2 separate regions of the Homo sapiens genome follow, and region 2 is linked to region 1. Evidence: fine-mapped expression QTL. A gene starts in region 1. The other region holds a variant in brackets. All regions are shown on one strand. Distances are from middle to middle.

Region 1 (5,000 bases):
ACACCTCGCCACTCACGCTCCCCATCCGCGGCTGGCTGACTCTTACTCAGGGGAGCGGGCTCGCGTCCGGGGAGACACACAGTGCTCTAGAGGATCGTCGCGGACCGAAGAGGTTACAGCGGCCACCTGGAGCGGGAACAGCATGACAGACCTCCGGGCCGGGGCTCCGCCCCTCAGGCCCAGCCCTCCGCTCGCCCTTCGCCAACCGCCGGGTACGGCCCCGCCCCCACTGCAGGCGGCCGCGCGGCAAGACATCGCCCCCTGCTGTCCTGGAGGCCGCATAGCTGCCCGCTGCTCTCGGTTCGCCAGTACGCTGGCCGGGGACTTGGTCAACTCGTTCTCCTGCTGTGCCCAGGGGCTATTAAACTGTGGGGGCCACTTCTCAGGCTAAATCTATTGCAGCCTCTCCAGCCTCCCATGCACCAGCCAGCTTAGGAACAGTGTAAGAGCCTGGAAAGAAAAATGGGGAGGGGTGGTAGTGAGAGGAAAAGTGTTGGCATACCTCTCAGGGCATTACTCCTAGCCCAGGAGTGTGGTCAACGTTGGGTCCTGGGCTTTCATTACCATTTTCAACATATTATTCAGTTCACCCCAATACAATCGCATATGGCCATATGCTACCACTAGAAAAGAGACCTCTAGTTTCCCAGGAGAGTGGAACTAAGGGTAGGTATTAATGTACTATTTTACCCTAAATTTCTTTGTAAGATGGTTTTAAAGGAAATTTTCTTCAACGGAAAGTCAGTGCCAAAACAGCAAGCTGTGGTGTGGATTCAATAATTCTAATGTTTTTGTCTTAACTGATTATTACAACGCATTGTAACAGTTATAGAAGCACCTACGGAGACTTACAGACATAATGGAAGGAATGGTAATTGGAGCGTCAAGAAAGAGTTCGTGGTCGATCTCACTGGACTGCATTTTTAAAGATTAATAGGAGTTCCCAGGCAGAAAATTTACGAAAGAGCGTTTCAAGCAATGCTGACCACATATGCAAAGCCAAAGTAAAGATATCTGCATTGCTAGAATGAAAAGTTTCAAGGGGGGACTAAAAAGAGATGAAGCTGGAAGAGGTGCATAGGGGCCAGGTTGTTAACAGCTGTGGTGCTATCTTTTCTTTTTTCTTCTTTTTTCTTTCTTTCTTTCTTTTTTTTTTTTTTTTTTTTTTTGAGACTGGCTCTGTCTAACAGGCTGGAGTGGCGCAATCTCGGATCACTGCAACTTCCGCCTCCTGGGTTCAAACGATTCTCCTGCCTCAGCCTCATGAGTAGCCGGGACTACAGGCGCACATCATCACGCCCGGCTAATTTTTTTTTGTATTTTTTTAGTAGAGACGGGGTTTCACCATGTTGGCCAGGCTGGTCTTGAACTCCCGACCTCAAGTGATCAGCCCGCCTCGGCTGCCCAAAGTGCTGGGATTACAGGCGTGAGCCACCGCGCCTGGCCTGTCATGCTATCTTTTCAGGAAATAAAAGAAAAAAAAATCTTGAACACCTATGCTAGGTGCTAGGAGATAAAACAAGGAACGCAGACCTGCTCCCTGTGTCTTGAAACTTAAAATCTTGCACGGATGGAAGAATGAGATGGAGAAAAAAGAAAACCTAAAACACGTGAACTAATAAAAAAATTAAACATTGTATTAACTGTAGGAAGAAAACAAACCAGTTACCCAGATTAATTACGCTTTGGGAACAAATGCGGTTCACAGGAGTGCCAAAGATTTAACTGTAACCTGTTACGAGAACTGAGTACTGGACATTTTCAGATCAGTAATGGCACATTATATATACGTAGATGTTAACTTTTACCAAAGCGCAAAAAAGCAATCAAGGAGTACCCACTGCCTCCTCGCATCGATAGAAAAAGCCCATCTGCAAGTGAAGTGCCAAGCCACCACGAGCCCGTTAGCTTTTACGCATGTACAGTGAGTCATCTTGAAGTAAACGGGAATGCCATGTTTATCTTCCTCTCAACCAGCTTCCAGAACGACTTTTAGCTCAGTTGTACAACAGACAGCCTTACCTTTTAGTCTTTCAACAAACTTATCTCATTTAAGGTACCTATACCCACACAAAAACACTTTCCGCCCTCCACATCCCGCTCTTAAGGCTCCAGCTACCTTTAATATGGCGGAGGCCGAGCCTGCGCATTAGAAGCAGAGAAGGCAAATACCAGTTTCTGGAATAACGTTACATGCCCTTCTTCCGGTGCGGAAGACTATACCACTCCCATACCCTATAACTTTGTTTGTTCTATTTCACACATATAATTTTCCGAGACAAGATGTTCTCATTTAAGCAACAAGAAGATTCGTCTCTCGCTATTACTGTAACTGCTGTTTATATCGTCATGTCCCGGAAAGGTCCCTGTCTTCCCTGAATGGTCTCTACCAACTTCACCTCCGGTTCTAGGTGTCATGGCTGCCCCAAGAGTCTAGGTAAGAGTTTGTTCCCGTGGTGCGGAGGGTCAAGGCCCACACCCGGAAACCTAGCGAGGTAAAGTTGCGTCTTGGTTGTAGAGACGACAACTTCTCCGCTTCCTCGGCGATGGCGGCGTCCGGGAGCGGTATGGCCCAGAAAACCTGGGAACTGGCCAACAACATGCAGGAAGCTCAGAGTATCGATGAAATCTACAAATACGACAAGAAACAGCAGCAAGAAATCCTGGCGGCGAAGCCCTGGACTAAGGAGTGAGGAGGTCCCTGGCGAGACGCAGGGGAGGGAAAGGGTGGCGGAGTTTAAGAGACCCAGAGGGAGAGGGAGGTGAAAGGGGTGAAGAGCTTTCACCGACTGGGAGGGGGACAGAATATGCGTCTTGGATCTGCAAGTAGAGCCTAAGCCCTCCGCTGGGGCTTTCACTCCCCTTTCTGTCGCTTTAATCCATTTGCCCCCGGGTGATGTAAGGGGAGAACAACAAGCGGTGATTTAAGTTGTCACTTCTGAACATCCGTATTGTCATATATGCCACACACCCTACCTTGAGCCCAGTGTCGACATGCACCTTGTTTGGGTCTTCAACTAATCCCAAACTGGGGATTGCAGCTGTTTTCAGAAATCGAGTCAGCAGCCCAAGGTCTCAAAAATAGCTATGAGCTATTTTCTTTTCTTTTTTTTTTAATAGAAATGGGTCCTCGCTGTGTTGCTCAGGCTGATCTCGAGCTTCTGCCTTCAAGCGATCCTCCCGCCTTCGCCTTCCAAAGTGCTGGGATTACAGGCGTGAGGCCTGGGCCTATAATAGTTTTTTGATTGCTGGTAATTATTTCGGAGGCACACGGAGGCTCTACTACCTGGTCTCTAAAATGTTACTCCACCAGTTCCCATAAGCCAGAAATTATAAAAATAGAGCTTAAGACCTTTTGCCCTTCAACAATATCCATTTTTCCCTGGGAGTGGTGACAAGTCGAGGGATCTTTACCCATAATATTTATCTTTTCCTGAGAGCATCTCCTGAGAGATTTCCTGCTATCAGGAAAAGATAATTATTACGGGTTATGTTTGAGAGTAAAAAGAGCACGAAAGCTAATGGTTAGATAGAAAGGAAAGCTGTGGTCAACAAGAGGACATACTTCTACTGCCTCACAGTTTTTTTTACAAGGCTAGCCTTGTCTCTCAGTATTCAGATTCCACAATGGTGAACTGCGGAAGCACCTAGCTAGAGATTTCCACGTCATTTAATTTTCATGACAACCCAGTACAGTATATCCATCCTTTTGTTACAAATTAAAAAACAAGCAAATACGTTATGTAATTTATGATCATACTGACATAAGTGAACTCTCAACTGAGCAATAGTCAGACCTAAGATCAAATCTCACAGCTGTCACTAACTAGTTGATTGACCTTAGGAAATTTACTTATCCATCTTCATTTGTCATAATATGGAAATAAGACCTACTTATTGGTATTGTCATAGAGATTAGGTGAGATAATGTATAAAAAGAGTCGTCTAGAATGTATGTAATAGGAGCACAGTAACTTGTCTTTCTTCTTTTCTCCAGTAAAGGGAGAAGCCAAGATTTCGATTCATGTCTTGACTTCCAACATGAGGTCTACACATTTTTCAGCTTTTGGTTGAAATCTGGCAAAGCTTAGGAATTAAATTTGGATTCTTTCTGTGGGCAGACATCTAAAAAGGCTTTGTAGAGACGTTGACTGACTGCTCTGTAAGGCTGCTTAAGTTGCTTGGTTATCTGCTTGCTTCTGTAACAGGCTGTGCATTTTAGGTTCGTGTACTCTTAAATATTTGGAAACTGTTGGCCTGCCTCACTGTCTAATTGTGGCTCTAATTATATTCATCCTAGCTGTCTTGGGCTGCATTAATGAGACCAAAATGTAATTTTATTCAAGAGTTTAATTCACTGATGACCAACTCTGAAATAGTGATCATAGGAGACTAGGATATTAGGGCTACTTTTTAATTTAAGGCTGATATAACAGGGAAGCCCACCCTTCAACACTCTGTTCTTTGAGAGTAGGGTTAAGAGACAGGTTAATAATGCTGATAACAGCTAGCACTTATTAGGGTTCTAGTATGTGTAAGGCACTAAGCACTTTATATACATTATTTCATTTATTTCATCCTAACAACAATTATGAATATCCCTATTTACAGAAAAGGAAACCTAGGCACAGATATTACAGGGTTGTCCCAATACCACAGCTAGGGAATGGCAATGTCAAGATTCAGACCTTAGCAGATGAATGTCAGAACCCACATTCTTAACCATTAGGCCAGAAGGTTAGGCCTCAGAACAGTTAGGCACAACCATCCAAGCAGTCAGAATCCAAGATTGGGTGATTCCAAATTAATGGAGAAAAAGTCTGTTGAACTGGTCATGTTACTCCCTTATTTGAATAGCATATTAAAAAAGTATTTCAGACTTTTCCCCTCCCCTAAGGGGGATACGTTGCTGCACTATGACATACTTATTGTTTCCAGCCTGCAAAAACTGTCCTTTTTTACTTTTTCTCCCCGTAGTCTACACTCCCTTTCCATCGCTC
Region 2 (5,533 bases), 150 kb before region 1:
TGGTGTTTTCAGATAACCATACTTCAGGAAAGTCATTTTTATTTTAAACCTATGCTAATCCCATTTGGACAAATTCTTACCTCTTTATTTCCCTTTCATGTTCTGTCATATTCTAGAGCAAGGCCGGCGTTGCTATTCATGCACTTCGAAAAATCATAATGTTAGTATCAAGATGATACGGTGATGGTTTTTTTTAATAATCAAAACAAGCAGTGCCAAAAATGGTTAAATTATTGTATACATAGGTGGTTATGGGATAATAAGGAGCAATAGATATCAGATTTTAAGTTGAGGTGAATATAACGTTCTAGAGGGAATTCAGGGGTCTAAAAGGAACACTGACAGCCTTCCATTTTTAATATGAAAACATTTATATATATATATATATATATATATATTTTTTTTTTTTTTTTTAATCATAGTAGTTGATTAATGGCGTGATGTTCATTAATGACTTTTTTCCCCAGAAAGCTGAATGGATGACAACAACTTGCAATCATGCACTTTATGCAATCTGTGATGTATTCACTCAGTATTTAGAAGTACTCAGTGATGTACTTTTGGATGACATTTTTGCTCAGCTCTACTGGTGTGTGCAGCAAGGTAGGTCTGTACCAGATATGTGACACAAAGTGTTAAATGTGACCCTGGTAATATATAAATGAATTGCTCTTTTCTTTCCTAGACAATGAGCAGTTAGCGCGATCTGGTACAAACTGTTTAGAGAATGTTGTTATTCTGAATGGTGAAAAATTTACCCTAGAAATCTGGGATAAAACTTGCAACTGCACACTGGATATCTTCAAAACCACAATCCCACATGCGTAAGAAGATTTTATACAACTTTACATTTATATTTGTATATTGAATGAGTTGGAGAGTGACTAGTGATTAAAAGTTTGATAGTGACTACTGATTTCTCATAACAGAAATCCTTTTAAGCTTGTCTTACTCTTACATGGATTTAGATTTATTACAAACCAAACTGCTATAAACTATAACAAATACATAAATTAAACTATTTATAAACCAAAACCTTTAGTCTGGTTACCAAAATTTGGGACATAATGAAGTGATTCTGCTGACTTTTATAAGATTTTATTTATTCAGATCAAACCAAGCAGTGGTTTTGAATTGGAAAAAAAAAAATCTCAGCCTGTTTCTGTTACTGATCTTTTAATAATCTAAGGAAAATGTATTTACACATACTATATTTCGTATTTCGTAACAGCTTGTCATCTTTCTCTAAGGGATGAGTGTGAAATGGAATTATAGTGAGGTAGGTTTTTTTTTTTTTTTTTGAGATGGAGTTTCGTTCATGTTTACCAGGCTGGAGTGCATTGGCGCAATCTCGGCTCACCACAACCTCCGCCTCTTGGGTTCAAGTGATTATCCTGCCTTAGCCTCCCAAGTAGCTAGGATTACAGGCATGCACCACCATGCCTGGCTAATTTTGTATTTTTAGTTGAGATGGGGTTTCTCCACGTTGGTCAGGCTGGTCTCAAACTCCCAACCTCGGGTGATCCGCCCACCTTGGCCTCCCAAAGTGCTGGGATTACAGGCGTGAGCCACCGCGCCTGGCCAATTTTATGATTTTTTTTTTTTTTTGAGAAGCCTCTTACTTTGGAAAATATTTGATATTAATACTTAGGGAAAGGAGGTCTGAAATCTTTAAAACTTATCAGAAAGTGTTCTTTTAATGCAAAACTGGTGACCATATTACCCTTTTAATTATATTAAATGCCACTTAATTTTTTTCTAAAAGTACATATTTTAAACTTTTTACTAGATGTTTTTTAGGAAATTGCTAAAATTAGCAGTGGTCAAAGATGGACTGTTTAGTTGGTATGTTCTTGTTACTTTCTTGGGCCCATTTCAAAATATGCTGGATGTGGCATGTGGCACAGCCCCCTAGTGATTGACGTGGTTTTGGTATCTTAAAGGCTGTTGACCTGGCGACCCAATTCTGGAGAAACTGCCCCCCCACCTCCATCTCCTGTAAGTGAAAAGCCATTGGTAAGTTTTAATCAGTAAAGTATATTGAAATTAGTTATTTGTGATGAGTAATTTTATTATGGGTCAAATTCTTACATGTAATTGTCTTAATCCATTCCTGCTATTAAAAAAATATCTGAGACTGGATTACTTATAAATAGACATTTTTTTTTT[A/TA]CAATTACGAAGGCTGGGAATTGTATGATCAAGTGTCTGGTGAGAGCTGCTCTCTGCTTCCAAGATGGCACCACGTTGCTGCATTCTCACGTGGTGGAAGGAGGAGGGACAGAAAGGGGCCTAGCTAGTTCCCTCCAGTCCTTTTTTAAGGCACTAATTCTCATGGCCTACTCACCTCCTAAAATCTCTACCTCTTGATACTGTTGCATTGGGGATTAAGTTTTATTATGAATTTAGGAGGGAATGCAAACATTCATATCATTGCAATGCGTTTGACTCTTTTAAGAAGATGGTATAAATTTACTGTCCAGAATTGTGAAGTTAATTCTTTGGTCAATGTCACAGACAATTAATATGTGTCTTTGTTAAGTGCCATGAAGGGAGTATTTTAAATTATTTTTAAATATAGGACATAGAACAAAATGATTTTTTAAGGGTTGTGAGAGAAAGGTACCAGATTACGTAGCTGTCTCCATGCAAAGCTGAAGATATTGTTGGATAGTATTTAAACTTTTTATTTTTATATAATTTCACCTTATAGAAAAGTAACACAAAACAGTACAAAGAATTCTAACATTCACTTCACCCAGTGTATTGGTTTCCTAGTTCTACCATAAAAAATTACCACAAACTTGGTGGCTTAAAACTATAGAAACCTACTATCTCATGGTTCTAAAGACCATGGGTCCTAAATCAAGGAGTTAGCAGGGCCACATTCCCTCCAAAGGCTCTAAGGGAGAATCCTTACTAGCTTCGTCCAGCTTCTGGCGGCTGTTGACAACCTTTGGCATTATTTGGCTTGTTCACATATCACTCCAATCTCTGCCACCATCTATCCATAGTCTCCCTCACTGTGTGTGAATTAAATCTCTCCCTCTCCTTTTTGTTTTATGAAGACATTAGTCATTGGATTTAGGGTTTACCTGAAATCCAGGATGATCTCATCTCAAGATCGTTAATTACATCTGAAAAGACCTTATTTCCAAGTAAGGTAACATTTGCAGGTATCAGGGGTCAGGACTTGAACATACTTTTTAGGGGACAATATTCATGCCACTATGGTCTACCCACTGACACCTAAAAATTCATGTCCATCCCATCGGCAAAAGATGGTCACCCCATTCTAAGGTCCCCAAAAGTCTAAACTCATTACAGCATCAACACTATGTCCAAAATCCCTTATAAATATAATCAAAAGTCCCTAATCTGATCATCCGCATCTGCATTAAGGATGGATGACACTCTTGAGTATGCTCTATTCTGGGGCAGAATTCGTCTCCATCTGTGGACCTGTGAACCTAGAAAACAGGTTTGTAACTTTTAAAATACAGTAGTGGGACAAGCATAAGATATACGATCTCATTGCAAAAAGGAGAAATTGGAAGGAACAAAGGATCACCAGTCCTAAGCAAGGTTGAAACTTAGCAGGGACAATTCCGTTGAGTTTTAAGGCCTGAGAATAATGCTGTGTGGCTTGATATTCTGCCCTCTGGGGCTATGGCTGGCTTCTTCGGGCCTGAGCCCTACACTCTCAGTTGTTCTTCTTTTTCTTAAAGGTTAGCACGTTTGTAGCTCTGTTGACCCATTTTCTGCCTGTAGAATCCTAGAATTCAGCCTCCCTTCCTCTTATTGTTTCTGTCCCTTTCATTCTAGGCTGGCCATATGTCTGCTGGTATATCATTCTCAAAATCCTTGTGGGTCTTCTGTATGTGTTAAGAGAAACCATGCCATTAAACAAGAGTGTGATCCACACATCTTTCTGGATAGTCCTGTTATGTTCCTGGCTTCTGCTGAGATGATCGATTGGCTCCACTAGATATATACCTAATCTCTTTGGCAAAAAGTTGTCCAGCTATTATAGCCTTGGCCTTCTCTCCAAAGCATGCTTTCCTAACAATTCATTTCCTAATTGTAGCATCGTTTTCAATCTCGATAGGCACAAGATCCTCTCACATCATCAACTGGCAGTTTCTTTTTGCTTAACAGTTCTTTCATCAATATATCTTCTTCTTGCATTGTACTATAAACAGCAAGGATAAACCAGGCCACACCTTCAGCACTTTGCTTGGAAATCTCAACTACATATCATCACTTAGAATTCTGCTTTCCACCCAACAATTCAGCCAAGCTTTCTGCCACTTTACAACAAGGATCACCTATCAGTATCTAATATCATGTTCTTGATTTCCTTCTAAGACCTCACCAGAAGCACCTTTTAACATTCATATTTGTACCAATAATCTGTTTCATGGCCATACATGTCTTCTCTAAGATGGTAGATGCTTTCTCTCACACATTGCACTTCCTTGTGGATCCTCACCAGAACTACATTTGACATCCATATTTCTACCAACAGTCTCTTCAGGGCAATGTAGGTGTTTCCCTATCATGTGTCTCAGAACTCTTCCAGCTTCTACCATTGCCCAGTTCCAAAGCCACTTCTACATTTTTAGGTGTTTGTTACAGCCACATTCCATTTCATGGTATCAAAATCTTTATCAGGGCCAGCAAAACAAAACCAGCAGGAGAGATTTGTATAGATAGATTTAAGGAACTGGCTTACGTGATTGTGGAGGCTGGCAGGTTTGAAATTTTGTAGGGCAGGCAGGCAGGCTGGAAAGCCTTGGGCTGCTGCTGAAGCTGCAGTTCACAGGCGGGATTTCTTCCCCAGGAAAACCTGTTTTGCTCAGTTTTGAAGGCTTTCAACTGATTGGATAAGGACCATCTAGATTATTGAAGATAATTTCCTTAAAAAGTGAGCTGACTATAGATGTTAACCACATGTATAAAATACCTTCAGCTGAACACCTGGAATAGTGTTTAATTGAATTAATTGTTACTCCTTCGACTTAAGTATCTGGCTTAAGTACATAGGATATTGGTATTGTGTCCTAGCCAAATTGACACAAAAGTAATCATTACACCAGGTTTCTCCAAATGTTGTCATTTTACATTTGTTTTTACCAACCCCAGCTGTCCTCCCTCTTTTTATCTTGCTACCCTGCCTCCCAGACACACAATTTTCTGAATTCTTTGGAAGTAATTTGTAAACACAATGCCCACTTATCCCTAACAATCAAAAAATTATCCTTGAAACAATACTCTTATTTAATCTACAGGTCTTTTCAAATTTGTACTGTTCTCCCAATAATACCTTTGAATTTTAAAGCCAGGAGGCTGTAAAGTAGCAAACTAACGCCAACTGACCAGATTTGTTCCCCACAACTTTTAACTTTCTTAACAAATTGTCAACGGTTAAAACTTAGATTTCACAGAAAAGTATCATTCTGAATTGCCCTTGAGAACTGTGACATCTATGCTGGGCCCGTGTTGCTCCATGACTCTGTTGTGCTGACGTCCATTC

The links. PIP is the estimated chance that this variant, and not a neighbour inherited with it, causes the effect.
Region 2: its variant is the best candidate, but not a certain one, in a credible set for the expression of COPS5 in T cells (TOPMed, PIP 0.54).

Annotation. Positions count from the first base shown.
Region 1 is chr8:67,059,543-67,064,542 of GRCh38, reverse strand. COPS5 (COP9 signalosome subunit 5) reads left to right here and starts at 2,410. Exons shown (of 8, transcript NM_006837.3): 1 at 2,410-2,689. The coding sequence starts at 2,547. It overlaps CSPP1 (centrosome and spindle pole associated protein 1), which reads right to left and starts at 151. Exons shown (of 31, transcript NM_001382391.1): 1 at 5-151. RefSeq lists silencers at 8-195, 134-273 and enhancers at 2,204-2,473, 2,654-2,743.
Region 2 is chr8:67,213,073-67,218,605 of GRCh38, reverse strand. ARFGEF1 (ARF guanine nucleotide exchange factor 1) reads left to right here. Exons shown (of 39, transcript NM_006421.5): 31 at 468-603; 32 at 686-824; 33 at 1,944-2,016. Among named protein-coding and RNA genes, the nearest start is that of ARFGEF1, 130 kb to the left of the region's middle. The variant A/TA (reference allele first, on the strand shown) is at 2,170.